Regions from separate parts of the Homo sapiens genome. Here region 2 is linked to region 1. A link means that fine-mapping ties the variant in region 1 to the expression of a gene that starts in the linked region. Tissue or cell type: whole blood. Region 1 holds a variant in brackets; the other region holds the start of a gene. All regions are shown on one strand. Distances are between the middles of the regions.

Region 1 (7,939 bases):
ACAATTCAACAAAGGAACAAAAGGAGACTACAAAGCTCCCTTTACAGCTGCACTCTGGCCAGCTTTGGCCAACTTGCAACTCAATTCAGAGGAACATCTCAGCAAAGGGCTCATTTTCATCACAAACATCTACTACAGTTGTACTGGAGTCTTATCCTTGGATGATGTAAAATGAGAAGTTACAGGGCCCAGTGTGACCCTGAGCCGGGGGCAATCACTGTGGGCTGTCTAGTCATTTTAAGTCAACATTGCTAGATTAAGCAACCAGGATGACCAAACCTGGGAATAATGAACAGCTTTATCATGTTGGCATGTGAAATGGTCAAATCCGTGGCTGGAATATTTTCAAGGCAATGTGTACCCAATTAAGATCCGGGGTGTGGTGGCTCATGCCTGTAATTCCAGCACTTTGGGAGGCCGAGGCGGGCAGATCATCTGAGGTCAGGATTCAATTAAGATCAATAAATGACAAATGGGATGCTTTTATTTTTGCTTTGCTTTTTTTTGTTTTGTTTTGAGACAGGGTCTCCCTCTGTCGCCCAGGCTGGAGTGCAGTGGCGTGATCTCAGCTCATTGCAGCCTCCACCTCCAGGGTTGAAACTATTCTCCTGCCTCAGCCTCCTGAGTAGCTGGGATTACAGGCGCCCACCACCACGCCCGGCTAACTTTTGTAATTTTTTAGTAGAGACGGGGTTTCACCATGTTGGCCAGGCTGGTCTTGAGCTCCTGATCTCAAGTTATCCACCTACCTCGGCCTCCCAAAGTACTGAGATTACAGGCGTGAGCCACCGTGCCTGGTCTATTTTTGCTCTTTTCTTTGCTAACATGTTACACCAGCTCAGCTTCATAGCTGTAAACATGCAGCTGCCAAGGTAGGTTCCAGGCTGCGCACCTTCTTCCTGACGCTGCTGCATGAGCTGGCGGGGTGGGTGATGAAGAGTTACTAAAACATGAAGTGGCTCCTCTACGAGGGGAGAAAGGGCTGGAAACTCCACCAAGGCTCAGAAGTTACCCCAGGGGTTCAGATGGGGCTCACGGGATTCAGAGAGAACCAGACTACTTCCTCTTCCCCTATTCAGGGAGGTTGAAGTCCTGATTGCATCACCCTGGCCTGCCCCAGTTCCAAGAACTGGGGTTAGCAGCTCCAGCCCCTTGATATGCAAATCATGCAGTCCCACTGCTGATAAATTGTTCTACCCAGGGGAGGGCTAATACTGTCCTGCCCAGCTGGCAGTTTATCTTGGTGCTTCCTGCCAACCCCACAAAGGTGGAAAAATAGAATTCGCTTTCATAGAAGAACCTCACTGAACTGAGCTAAAAGTAGGGACTCTGGAGTTAAACTGCTTGATCCAAATCCTAACCCCACTGCTTTAGTTGTGTGAATTTAGACAAGTGACTTAATCTCTTGTACTTCACTTTCCCCCATCTGTACAATGAAACTGAGAGTACCCACCTCATGGGGGGTATTGAATAAGTAAATACACTTAAAGTATTTAGAACAGGGCTTCACATGTAATAAACATGCAACATGTTAGCCATTAAGTGAAAGCAACTTTGGCAGTCAAAGGCTGACCCACATCCCAAAGCAAAGGCTTGAAGTTATTGTCCTTTCAAACACTCAAGGCCATGTGTCTAATTCAGTTAGGTCACCGTGGAATAGCTTGGGAGAGCAGGAGCAAATGGGTGTGGGATGAGGACTGGCTGGGAAGGACAGTGGGATGATAAGGCCTGACGATGTCTTAAGATGGACCTGAGGGAGTGAAAGGTCCCAATGTGACCTCGTCTTGACCTCCATGCTGCCCACTGTGCTGAGGGAACCCAGCAGCCCCAGTGGACTCTGGCCCAGTTGCCTGAATGGCTCGCTACCTGCTCTGTGCCAGCCTTCTTCAGGAAGTGTGGGCAAGACAGCCTTGTGATCCCTTGGAAGGGGATGCCAGGTCTAGCAGAACTGAAGAAAGATGTGAAGTAGAATTGTAACCAGGAATTGAAGACTCATTTGAGCTTTAGGTAAATATCCTGTGTATCTTCTCTCTTCTCAGATATAAACATTAGCTATTGAATAACCTGATAGGCATGGAATAAATAGCCTCAAAAGAATGGACTCAACCCAAACTGGGGAACCCAGGTAGTGGGCTTGAGAAGCAATTGTGAAGAAGGAAGCTGCTGAGTGATCACAGACTTACCAAAGACAGTGTTTTGGCTCTGCGTGGCTATGATAATGAGTTTTGTGAATGAAACAGGAGGCATGCTTTATTTTTCGTGGTTGTTTACCAGAGTGGAGTGAACCATAACAAAAAGTTAATCAATCCCACAGAGCAATAGAAGACCCAAAGTGGAGGAGCTATGAAGGCCAAAAAAGTCCCAAAGTCAGAATGATCCTTCCCTTTCCCAGACTACAGCATCAAAGATTTAGACCCTAGAGCTGGATCTACTCTTTACCAAGCCTGAACCCTTTGGGAAACCAATGAACTCAACTTCTCTGAGCCTCTCTTGCCATTTGTAGTATGTACTGCAGTACTCACACTATCATCAGTGGGAATAGTGGGCACGTCATGAAGATCTAGTGGCATGATGTGGGTGAGAGTGATGACTATGAGTGGTAAGTGCTACACAAATGGAAAGGGAAGTTCCTAGCTACTCTATTCATTCAAAAGTAAGTGTTCGCATTGGAATGCAAAAAAAAGAACCTATGACAGAGAAGAGACTGTCAGTACTAGCCAGCTACTCCTCAGCTGCTCTATAATTCCCCTATCCCGTCTGTAGTTAGAGGGAAGCCATGTTTTAGCCAGTCATTGTGAGAAGAGGTGAGGTGTGTCCCTCCTAGGAGAGGCAGGCAGGCAGCCGGCGCCCCCTCCATGTCTCTTCCTTGCTCTGGAGACTTTGGAAAGCTACATTTTCCAGATAGTGTAGTTATAAGATGGAGGAAGATTGTTGAACTTACATGCTACTTTATGTGAATGAGAAATAAACATTTATGGTGTCTAGCCCCTGAGATCTTGAGGGTTGGTCTGTTACAGCTATGCTTAGCAGTCATCACCCTCATTCAGGACAGAAGTTTTGGTCAGTAAGAGACAGGCCACATCTACTTCAGAGAATCACAGAAGAACTTACATCAACCTCTCCTCTCAGGAATTTTCTGTGAGTTGAGTTCTACCCATTCTGCTCAAGGTTTTATTTTGATTGGAAATCTACTGTCTTAGTGGGAAGGAGACAAATCATTCTAGTCAAAACACTTCCTTTTGCTACAAAATGCATTTATTTCCAGTCAGACAAAATTCTTGAACTGTA[T/C]ATTCGGGTACATATTATAAGGTCATCTTTGATATATGCCCTGTTTACAAGATCCATTTCTAATTATTAAAGTGAATATCAAACACACATCTTTGCATCTTAAAACATAAATAAACTGCTAATGTTTATAAGCCACAAATCTGGTCACTGACATGAGTGGCCTGCAATTCTTCAGTGATGAGCACACGGCGATACAGACAAGATCAGATTACCCAGGTAGGCAGGCAGCAGGCACCTGTAATTCACCCGCTGACTGTGCTGTTGTGGCAGTGACCCTTCTTGTGAAAAAAGAGTTATGTGCAGACAAAAGTGTGACATATGCAACGTGGAGAGGCATTTCACAGAATGCAAACACCATTCAGGTAAATTAGTAGACTCCAGAATGAATGAAAGCTTCATGAATGCAAACCTGTTGTTTACAATACTGGGCATTGTGGCACCTTTTCACTGGACAGTTTAATAAATATCTATTAAAGAAAGTAAGGATAAGAGAAGAAGCTGAAGCAGTCGTCTTGGTGCACAACATATTTTCAAGATTGGGCTTTAGGTTGTGAGTTTCAGAGATACCATTGTTTGTTTCTTCAGAGTAAATCATTCTATTTGGAAAGCCCTTCATTTCCTTAAAAAGACCTTTAAATTCTTCATTAGCATTAAGAGACTTCTTGTAGACTGCCAGGAATTGGGGTTCATTGGCTTAAAGAAGAGCACAGCACAGTTGACAGAACGTCTTGGTTTGTCTCTTGAATTAAGAAGCCTGATTGGCTCAGAATTTCTCAGATCTACTTTATTCTTCACACTTTCCCTCCTTTTGGCTCCTGTTAACATCCCAAGCCCACAGAGACAGACGCTCATAGGTGGAGCGGTATACTTCATAAAATCTCATTTCATTATCAACTATTTCTAGTGCCATGGCTCCCTCTGGACTCTAAATAGTTGATATCTGAAAGTTCCATCCTTCACAGAGTTCTTCACTTGCTCCTTGAAGGTAAGGTTCTTGTTCTAAGGCTGATGCTGGGAAGGTCCCATAGAGGAAATTCCTGGAGAATCTCTATTCCCTTTGGGTTCTCGTGCCCTCTCTCTCACTCCCCATAAGGCTATGGTTGCAATTCTGGAGACACATAGGAAAAGTTTCTAAACTCATCCTGGTTAATCATTGGAAGATGTCCCTCATCAATTGGAGTTAAAACTGGCTCTTCCTTTATGAAGTCAGGGTCAAAATTACTGACATCTTCTCGGGATTTCTGCCAAAAAAAAAAGGGAAACAAGGGTGAGATTTTTGCGCTTGAGGCTTACTCATCTTGCATGGGATATAGCCCATTCCAGTGAGTTCAGAGGAGTGCTCTGTAGCTTGTTCAGTAGCATTATTTACAGTTATTGTTATGATGAAACTGTGCTTTACAGCAAGTCTACTGCATGGTGCATTATTATGGCATTTGGCAACCACCAATTCACTAATCCCATGAAAATCTTGCTGAGCAGGCCTGTCTTAATGGGAGGCTAAGAATTAATTTGGTCATCCAAAAGCAGCTGGCTCACTCACCCTTTATTCTCATTTCACCAAGGTGGCATTTCACAGCAGGCCTCGCTGAGGGGTGTGCAGCTGTATTTGTCAACAGAGGTTGGGTAGGTTCACACTTGTCCTACCTATTGTTTGCGCAGAGTTCTAGACATTTGAAGAGATCTTCCCAAAAGATTTCTTGCAAGTGCTGAGCTTAGGGAACAACTGTTGGTCATTTTACTCTCTAGGTAGATGCGTTACGCCCTGCTGGACCAGCTGTGCAGTTAGGACTACAGGCTCCAGCCTCTGAAGGCCATGCTCTCCCTAATCCCAGGGGCGCTGGCAGGGGGCTGACCATTGAAGGAACGGCTTTACCTCTGGGTGCCTGGTGTCCAACAGCCTAGTAGGCTGTTAGTGATTAAGTGCACTGTATGTTTTTAAAAGTTGAGTATTTTATATCTGTATAAACAAACGCTGCAAAGATCATTTCTAAGTGAGTATCACACATCTCACTGCTCTTACCTTAATCAATGATATTTCTCTATCACTTTTTTTTTTTTTTTTTTGAGACAAAGTCTAACTCAGTTGCCCAGGCTGGAGCGCATGACGCAATCTCGGCTCACTGCAATCTCCACCTCCTAGGTTCAAGCAATCCTTCTACTTCAGCCTCCTGAGTAGCAGGGATTAGAGGTGTGCATCACCACACCAGGCTTTTTTTTTTTGTATTTTTAGTAGAGATGGGGTTTTGCCATGTTGGCCAGGCTAGTCTCAAACTCCTGACCTCAAGTGATCCATCTGCCTCGGCCTCCCAAAGTGCTGGGATTATAGGCATGAGCCACCACGCCAGGTCTCCCCATCACTCTTGATCTATCGCTAGCCTTGCTTCTCTGCCTTCCTCCTGTGGAGCTCTTGACCCACAGATGAGCACGAGCTCAGCTCTCAGACCACAAGCGGGACCACGCTCAGGAAGGCCACCAGCCTCAGCTGCAGAGCTTGGAGAGGAGCCCCTGGAGATCCCAGTATTTCTTTGGTCAAAGAAGCCTGGCCTGGCCTGGGCTCTGCACTGCAGCAGCTATTACAGACCCAGGCTCTCCAAGCCAAGAGGCCAGGCTCAGTGAAGTGAGCAACATCTCCTACCCACTCTGCTTTCTCAGGGGCTTAGAAAAGGCACAAAAAGTGCCCCAAGGAGCATGAGGAAATTGGCCAGAACAATGACTTTCTCAATTAGCCAAACTCTTTTGGGGAAACCTGGAAAGTTTCAGGCCTCTTATACCCTACAAGATTTTAATTTAGGTTGAGAGAAGTTGGAGATTGGGTAAACGAGGGGTGAAACTTGGTAAGAATTAATGTGGGCACATGAAGACATTGTTGTCCCATGGACAAGGAGCCCAGATTCCCCCCAGGGGAGGCTGCCCTGTGCAGTATCCAGCTGAATTTCTGGTCTGTCACCCACAGGGGCCATCCAGCTCTTCTACGGACTTTGGTGGAATGCTGTGACATCTGAAGAAAGGAATGTCTCTGTGACAGCCTGGGACACTTACGATTCTGGGTCTGAAAGGCGGTTCTATTTGGCGATGGTTCAGCTGGGCCCAGTCGATTTCCTTAAAAAAAGGATGTCTCAAGATGGCGTGCTCGCCTCCCTGAGTCAGGCTGCCCAAGCGCATGGTGGGGTTCTTGGTCATGAACTGAGTGAGAGAGAGAGAAAGTGTCAATCATTCATTCACATACAACCAGCACGTCACAAGACAGCAGGCATCAGCCATGGCAGAGGAGCTGTGCGAGACTTTCTGGCAGGTCTTGCTTAACTAGCTGGGTTTTCCATCACAGGCAGCACAGTCAGTATGAATCATGCCTTAAAGGCGCGATTGCCTGTGTGGATTTATGGCTTTTCCCACTTCCATTTCAGACATGGCCACTAAAAGAAAGCAGGAGGGTCCAGTTTTCTTTTCTGTAAACACCATGTATTTTTCTTTCCTCTTTAAAGAAAAGAAGCTCTTTATAACAGTGTGCCTTTCCCCAACACTGCAGTTGTGGGCAGCAGACATCTTATGAATGGGGCTACTTTCAGAAACAGCTGTGCCATTTTTCTGAGTGACCTGACCAGCTGGCCAGGATTCCTGCTCTCTGACGAGACCACAGAGAGGAGAGAGAGTCGTTATTTTTGAAGATCTGTGTGAAGAAGCAGCAAAGGTGACATACTGAAAAGGTCTGTGTCCTGGCTCTAGAAAAAACAAAGTTGGCCACTTTTCTTTATGCAGCGAAGATATCATAGCTCTAGATGAAAGGCTTTTCTTCAAGATGTTCCCCCCACCACTGCTGTTTCGAAGTAGGTTCAATGACTGAGATTCCATTGCTCCATAGACCAAAAACTAAAACGAGCGCTGCCACACAGCTAAGCGATGTGTGCATAGAGATTCTCTGTATTTCCATCAGTTGGGAAACTTCCTTAGTGCTGGGCTCCTATCAAAATATGCTGGGCTAAATCTGCTTTCACAAAATAGCCAGGAAAGGTGTTTTGATCACTTCCTGAGCAAGGATTAGTACAGGATAATTCACTTTTCATGGCCGGAGTGTGGTTCTCAATTTCAAAGACACTGAAGCTAATTTAATTTCCCATATTGAAAGAAAATTGCCTTGGATAAAAAGTTTTGTTTTTGTTTTTATTTAAATCAGGTTATCTTTAAATAGACTCATGACAGTCCCCAAGCACCTCTTTCCAAATCTGATTTGTGAACAACACAAAAGTAATGCTGTGTTTATAAAAATTGTTTTGGAGCTGAATTTACAGAGAAAATCTTGTTGAAGGTGCAGACACGGAAAGACAGTGTTTGGAGGTACCTCCCACTGCCATGCCAGGTGTCCAGAGGTGTCAAGCTGCCAGTGTTGATTCAAATGAAAATGATAATGTTGAAGAAGGAGGCTGCAAAAGTTCCTAAGCAACCTGACGGGATATACCTTGTAAAATGCTTTCAAAAAAGCTTCAAAGGGCAGCTAATAAATGAATATACTGACAGGGTTTAATCGCTTCTCCTCTCTCCTAGTAACAGGAATTAAAGGCCACAGGTGGTTCTGGGTTGGAGGCAGGACCCAAAAGTAAATGCAGCATTCAGAGCTGCACAGGCCCAGTCAGAGCAGCTGCCACTTCAGGCACTT
Region 2 (6,469 bases), 230 kb after region 1:
TAGTTGAAAAGACTATCATTTCCCCCACTGAGTTGCCTTCTTGGCAGCTTTATCAGAAATCAGTGGGTCATATATGTGTGGATCTATTCCTAGACTCTCTTCTATTCATTCCACTGATCTGTATGACTCTCTTTATTCCAATATCACATTATCTTGATTACGGTCATGTTACAGTTAGCCTTGAAATCAGATACTCTAAGTCCCCCAACTTGTTCTTTTTCAAAACTATTCTTAGACTGGTCTCAGTACTTTACATTTCCATATAAATTTTAAAGTCAGTCTGTCAATTTCTACAACAAACTTAGATTTTGACTGAGATTATACTGAACCTATTGAATACTTTGGGAAGAATTGAGATCTTAACCATATTGAATCCTCTCATCCATAACCTACAGCTAAGAGCTTCTCTGGATCTAGCAAAAACTAAGTCACTAGGTTTTGGGGGTTTTTTGAACCTGCAACTTCAATAGTTTTTTTTTAAGTCAGTAATCTGTAGTTCCACTTGCAACCATAAATTTATTATGGAGTAAATTCAATTATTCCACATTTAACTCTCTGAATAAACTACATGTCAATTTAAAATACTAAAGATAAATAAGTATTTCTTTAATCCTGAACTTCAAAAGCACCTTTGGGCCAGATGCAGTGGCTCACACCTGTAATCCCAGCACTTTGGGAGGTTGAAGTGGGAGGATGGCTTGAGGCCACAAGTTCAAGACCAGCCTGGTCAACAAGGTAGCAAGACCCCATCTCTATTTTTTTAAAGCATTTTTGAACCTATAAAGGATACTTTTTTAAAAAAGCATGCATTCCATATATTTCCAAATTTTTTTAACAAGATTTTCTTTAAAAAGAAAAGAAACAACACTCTGCCCAACCTATGTTCCATATCCTTACAGTTCTGAAATACCCAAAACCTTTTTAAAAAAAACAACAAAAAAAAAATCTGCCTTCTGATGCATGCAAACGCATGAAAAACTGCTGGTTTCAAGGTCATTTAAATGCTGACCCTCCCTACCAACCACTCAACGTTTTCCAAAACACCACCAGTGGGTTATATTAAACATCTAAGTGTAATTATTTCAGACCATTATAAATATCGATATCTGATTTACACTGAATATTCATCCAGTGGAACAATAAGCAGCTCTGTACATGCCACCTAGTCAGATAACGTGGATCTTCCTACACTTATGACACCAAGAAGTCCTCATCTTTTGGTCTTCATGTAGGCTGCAGGTTCTCCACCTCGACTGCATACTGGAATCACCTGGTGAGCCTAAAAGTACGGATGATGGGGTCCCACAGCCAGAGATTCCTATCTAGAATCTTTAAAAGTGGGGATTTTTTAAAGGTCCCTGGGTGATTCAAGTGGGAAGATTATGGTTGAGAAGGACGAGTCTAGGCTATCTCCAGGAAGAGATGCTTCTCATGGCCACTGGCCAATCTGCACCACCATAATTCAGAACCTAGTTCCTCTAGAGCTTTGCCCGACCTAACTCCTAATCAGACACTAATAGAACTCAACAATTCCATCTGGATGCCTACACTCACTTCTATTTCATTTCCAGAAATTCACAGGATAAATGTAAATATCTAACTGTATTTTAGCAATTCCTCTCTAGTCCCCACTTCTAAGTACCACAAAGTAAATTAGGCTGAAGGGAAATTAACTCAATATAATTTGACGATTAAGGTTAGTCATTATGGTTTTTGTACTTCTATTTAAAAGAAAGGAATAGCTCCACAAGCCATCTTTAATTTTAGAAAATATACGGTAAAATTACTAATTCCACAAAGTATAAAATAAATACCTAAATGAGCCTTCATCACCATCCATCTGATTTCACCACTTGTAAATTTCAAACATTTTCAATACTGATATTGGGTTCAAAACTGACTCCCTCCAGAACTTAAACTATTAAACTCCTGAGAGTCTTCAAATGGCGTACTCCACTTTGCCAAACCAGACTACTTTATTATAATTATCATTCCATCATCTCAAAGTGGGAACGATGACACCTGCATCACAAAGACAGTGTGAGGATTAGGCAGTAAAAGCATGTTAGCACCGTGTAGAGCGCTCTAGAAGTTTTAATTGATTTACAGCAGAAATTATGCCTCCTGGGAACTATGTGAAAAGCAGAGGCAAGGGGAGAGCTGCGGGTAGCTACACGTCAATACCCAGGAACACAGGCTGGTGATGGGGGGAGGGAAGACAGTTAACAACCTCCTGAGGAGTCCTTACAGCCTCTTCTCAGACCCATAGCAGCAGAAACCCACACTGCAGGACTCCCACCTCGGACTGACTAAGTTACTTGCAAGTATATGTAAATCTCATCTCCTTGGAAAAATGCTAAATAATAAAACTGCCAACGTGCAGACCCAGGCGCTCATTTCCCTGCCAGTGTAGCTCATGTACCTCTGGGATGTGCAAGCCGAAACACGTGTGCACGTCTGAGCGGCTGAACCAACATGTATCCATAAACATTATGAATAATACTCGCGAGAATGTACGGCTTTCTCCTAAGTAGCGCTTGAAGCACTTTACCCAAATCAAGTCCCTTTTGTATCACTCCTTCCCTGCCTTTCCTACCTATCACTCTCGTGCTGAAAGTTGGAGCTCCTTACCCAAAGACTGGGCGGAAAGGGTGACCGCCCTGGACCCCTGCCCGACTTCCCGTTAGGCCAAGCCGCTGTCCTGAAAGGGGATCGTGTCCAGGCCGGCTTCCTGGAGACACACCTGCGCCTGCACACACCCACCGCGGTCGCGTCACCAGTGCCGCGGCCACGTGGACGAAGACCAAAGTCTGGAGGGAATTCCCTCAGCCACAAAGCGATGGGAAAGCGGGACCCGGGTGAGTTTTGAAAAACATAAGGGGAACGGGGGTTGGGTGGACACAAAGGGAAGGGGTCACCGCTACTCACCCAACCCTCGAAGGTGTCCGAGGCGCCGGTCGTGCGCAGCAGCTCCTGGAACTGCAGGGTGCAGTTGGCCACGAAGTGGTCGTAGCCCAGGGGCGTCTCGTGGAAGACGGCCAACTCGAGGTGGCCGCCGTCGGTGACGTTAGCGCAAAACTCCTCGTTGTACGTGGGTTTGTTGGTCTTCTGCTTGGTGCTGGTCTGGCCCACGCGCACCTGGTCCACGCTCACCGTCAGATAGGGGTCCAGCAGCTGGTGGCCCTTCTTGAAGAGCGAGTGGCGCAGGGACCAGCGGGTGGGCTGCAGCCCCACTGCCTCACCGATGCGGACCCTCAAATAGCCATTGAACTTCATGGTGCCAGACGACATGCCGGCGCCGCTGCCCCGGCCCCGGGGGGCCGCGCTGCTTCGCAGCGGGAGAACCGGGAGTCCCGTCTCAGGCCAGCCCTCGGGACAGGTGCAGGAGTCGAGGCAGCCCTGGGGAAAGGCAGCGCCTAAGCGCCCCTCGACTGGCCATTCTGCCTCCTCCGTGGGACTTTTCCCTCCCCTCCTTCCCTCCCTCCCGAGGTGGAAAGGAGGGGAGCCCGCCGCCGAGCCCTCAGCGGGCCGGGGAAGCCCGACCGTCCCTTCCAAGCGCGCGGCGCCTCCCGGGGACTCGCGCAGGACTCGCCCCTTCTCCAGGGCCGGGCAGCTCCTCTCCCTGGAGAGCCGGACCTACCCGTCCGGTGAGCCCCAGCCCCAAGCGTCTCTTCCCCCGCCTCCTCTTGCTTCTCCTCCTGCCCCCGCCTCCGAAGGCTCACGCTCTCCCCCACTCGGCGAGCTTCAAACCAGGAAGCAGCTGCCGCCGCCGCATCCCCGGCGAGAACCTCGCACCGCCAGGTTCCAAGTTCACAGAACCCCCGCGTCCGCTCCCGCGCCTTCCGGACCCCAGGGGCGTGGCCCGCGGTCCGCGGCCCGGCCCTGCGGTGGGTGGATCCCCGCGCAAGCCCCCGGGAGGCCAGTGCCCGCTTGCGCCGCCCTGCGCGCCCTCCTTGTAGCGCTGGGTCTGGCCGTGCGCTGCGGGTTAGGGGCCACCCCGGGCGCAGGCCAAAAAGGAAAGGGTTCGTGGCCCAGCCCGAGCAAACACCTGAGGCGTGGTAGACTGACCTGGGGAGCGATGGAAGGTTGGGAGGACGCAGAGGAGGGCGCTCCAGCCAGGAACCCGCGCGGCGAGGAGTCGCCCGCCCCCTCTCTCCCAACCTCCCCGGTGGGCTGGTGACCCTGCAGGGCCATCCCCAAGAGGCCCTGGCCGGAGGCGGGGGCACGGCGGGGAGGTTCTTTTTCCTAATATTTACAGGGATGGCTCATCCCGGGGTCAGCTCGAACGCATCCTGTTTGTGCGCCTTTCCTGCAGAGGCTAATTACACAGTTGTGTGTATGTGTGTGTTTTAATAGGGCAGTAGTAATGATGGAAATCCTGTTCGCCTCCTTCCTCGGAAGGTGTGTCTTGTTGCACATAGAGCAGGAAAGGTCGGTTCTTCTGGAGACAGACATGGCCAAGAGGTAATAAGTCTCTTCCTCTGCGGGTGGTTTCTGGTCCACCCAGCTCTGCGCGGCAAGGGCAGAAAATGTTCACACACACAGGCTGTCCCCAACACACACGCGGAAGAAATTGCCTCTTCTAGGAACACTCCAGCTTGTTGTATTTGCAGTCAGAGTGGGCAGCCTTCTGATGCTTCCCACCCCGTGGTCCCTGCAGATTTTGTCTCCGGGGAGGACCTTTTAGCCTACGCTGCTATGCCGCAAAGCTTGCTCCCTGAGGGCCAGCCACAACCAATTTGTTCCCCAAAAAGCCTAGGCCACTTTTTGTTGTTGTTGTTGTTGTTGTTTTTGAGACGGAGTTTCGCTTTTGTTGCCCAGGCTGGAGTGCAATGGCGCCATCTCGGCTCACCGCAACCTCCGCCTCCCAGGTTCGAGCGATTCACCTGCCCCAGCCTCCCGAGTAGCTGGAATTACAGGCATGCGCCACCACGCCCGGCTAATTTTGTATTTTTAGTAGAGACAGGGTTTCTCCATGTTGGTCAGGCTGGTCTCAAACTCCCGACCTCAAGTGATTCGCCTGCCTCGGCCTCCCAAAGTGCTGAGATTACAGGCGTGAGCCACAGCACCCAGCCAAGCCTAGGCCACTCTTAAGATACTTGATTACATTCTGTCTTGCTATACTGGTTCCCTCGGAGCAGATTCGGCTTGCTTTCATTCCTTTCTTTCTTCCTTCCCTCCTTTCTTTCTTTTATGTTTTAGAGACTGGGTTTTGCTTTGTCATCCAGGCTGGAATACAGCGGTGTGATCATGGCTTACCATAACCTCCAGCTCCCAGGTTCAAGTGATCTTCCAGCCCCTGCCTCCTAAAGTGTTAAGATTACAGGCATGAGCCCCCGTGCCTGGCCCCAGGTTCATCTTTCTAGCCCCCACTCCTCTAAGGCCCTGTTCAGAACTTTCTAATTGAGTAGGTTCTCAACGATTTCACATGAGTGCAAGGAGGCCTGACCCGTAATAACAGCACTATACAGAATGAAAACAAGTAAGGACAATGGGCCAGGGGGGAAAGGGCCTGTCTTGAAAACACCAAAGCTTCCTTAGAGAACAAGGCAGGGATGCAACGCATCACTCTAATGACATCTTAGCTTTAGGCAGGGCTTGTAAAGCCTGCTCCCAAACGTCCAGGGGGCTCCTGTTTGGCCTTAGTGCTCCAGGGGAAGATGTCGCATCTACCCTGTGGGTCAGCTCTGTCACCCTTTCCTCCAAACAGCTGAACTCTAGCTTTAAGAGCCACTAAAGGATTTGCTCCTGTTGGACTTTGGGGCTAAAAGAAAACAGTCCCCATACAGAATCATGGGGTGTAGACTTTAAATTTTTTTTTAAATTTTAAAAAGAAAACAGTCCCCAAATGGTAGGTGGCCACACAGCTGTCCTGGGACTGGGATATGACGATACCAGACACTCCATCTTCACCCTATCAGTACCTATCAGGATTGGCAATGGTGACAGAGCAGTGGGTCAGACAGCCATGGTGCCTGCCCTCCTGGGGCTTACAGTCCCACAAGGAGGAAAAACAACTAATAGAAGAGGGTGCAGTGAAGGAAAAGCCCACGGTGCCAAGGGGTGATGTATTATAACTGGATGGGTGGTCAGGGAAGGGTTCCTTGAAAAAGCAAATAGCAGAGAGATCAGCTCATTGAGAGCTCCTGAGGAGACAGATGGGTTGGCCTGTTTGGGAACCAAAAGCACCCTACGTGGCTGGAGCTGAGGAAGGCGTGGCTGGAGCTGAGGAAGGTGAGGGGAGAGTGGCTGAAATGAGCTTGCAAAGGTGGTCACACTGACCAGACTGGTAGATCACAGGAAAGCCTTGGACATTATCTATGGGCCACTGGACGCCTCTGAAGGCTGTTAAGCAGAGCCAGGGTAAGATGAGGATTTGTGTTTTAAAATACCTCTCTGGGGACAGGCAAGGTGGCTCACACCTATAAACCCAACACTTTGGGAGGCTGAGGCAGGAGTACTGCTTGAG

What was found. PIP is the estimated chance that this variant, and not a neighbour inherited with it, causes the effect.
Region 2: PRKCH starts here. The variant in region 1 is fine-mapped to the expression of PRKCH in whole blood (TOPMed, PIP above 0.99). The same link has a PIP of 0.9 or more in lung.

The regions. Positions count from the first base shown.
Region 1 is chr14:61,546,275-61,554,213 of GRCh38, reverse strand. It overlaps PRKCH (protein kinase C eta), which reads right to left. Exons shown (of 14, transcript NM_006255.5): 13 at 6,328-6,471; 14 at 3,238-4,529. The coding sequence ends at 4,383. Among named protein-coding and RNA genes, the nearest start is that of PRKCH-AS2, 4.8 kb to the right of the region's middle. RefSeq lists enhancers at 1,341-1,390, 1,285-1,794, 1,795-2,305. The variant T/C (reference allele first, on the strand shown) is at 3,289.
Region 2 is chr14:61,318,924-61,325,392 of GRCh38, reverse strand. It overlaps PRKCH (protein kinase C eta), which reads right to left and starts at 3,814. Exons shown (of 14, transcript NM_006255.5): 1 at 2,929-3,814. The coding sequence starts at 3,291. It overlaps PRKCH-AS1 (PRKCH antisense RNA 1), which reads left to right and starts at 2,575. Exons shown (of 5, transcript NR_186042.1): 1 at 2,575-2,858. RefSeq lists enhancers at 2,382-2,925, 2,926-3,470 and silencers at 3,432-3,601, 3,752-4,021.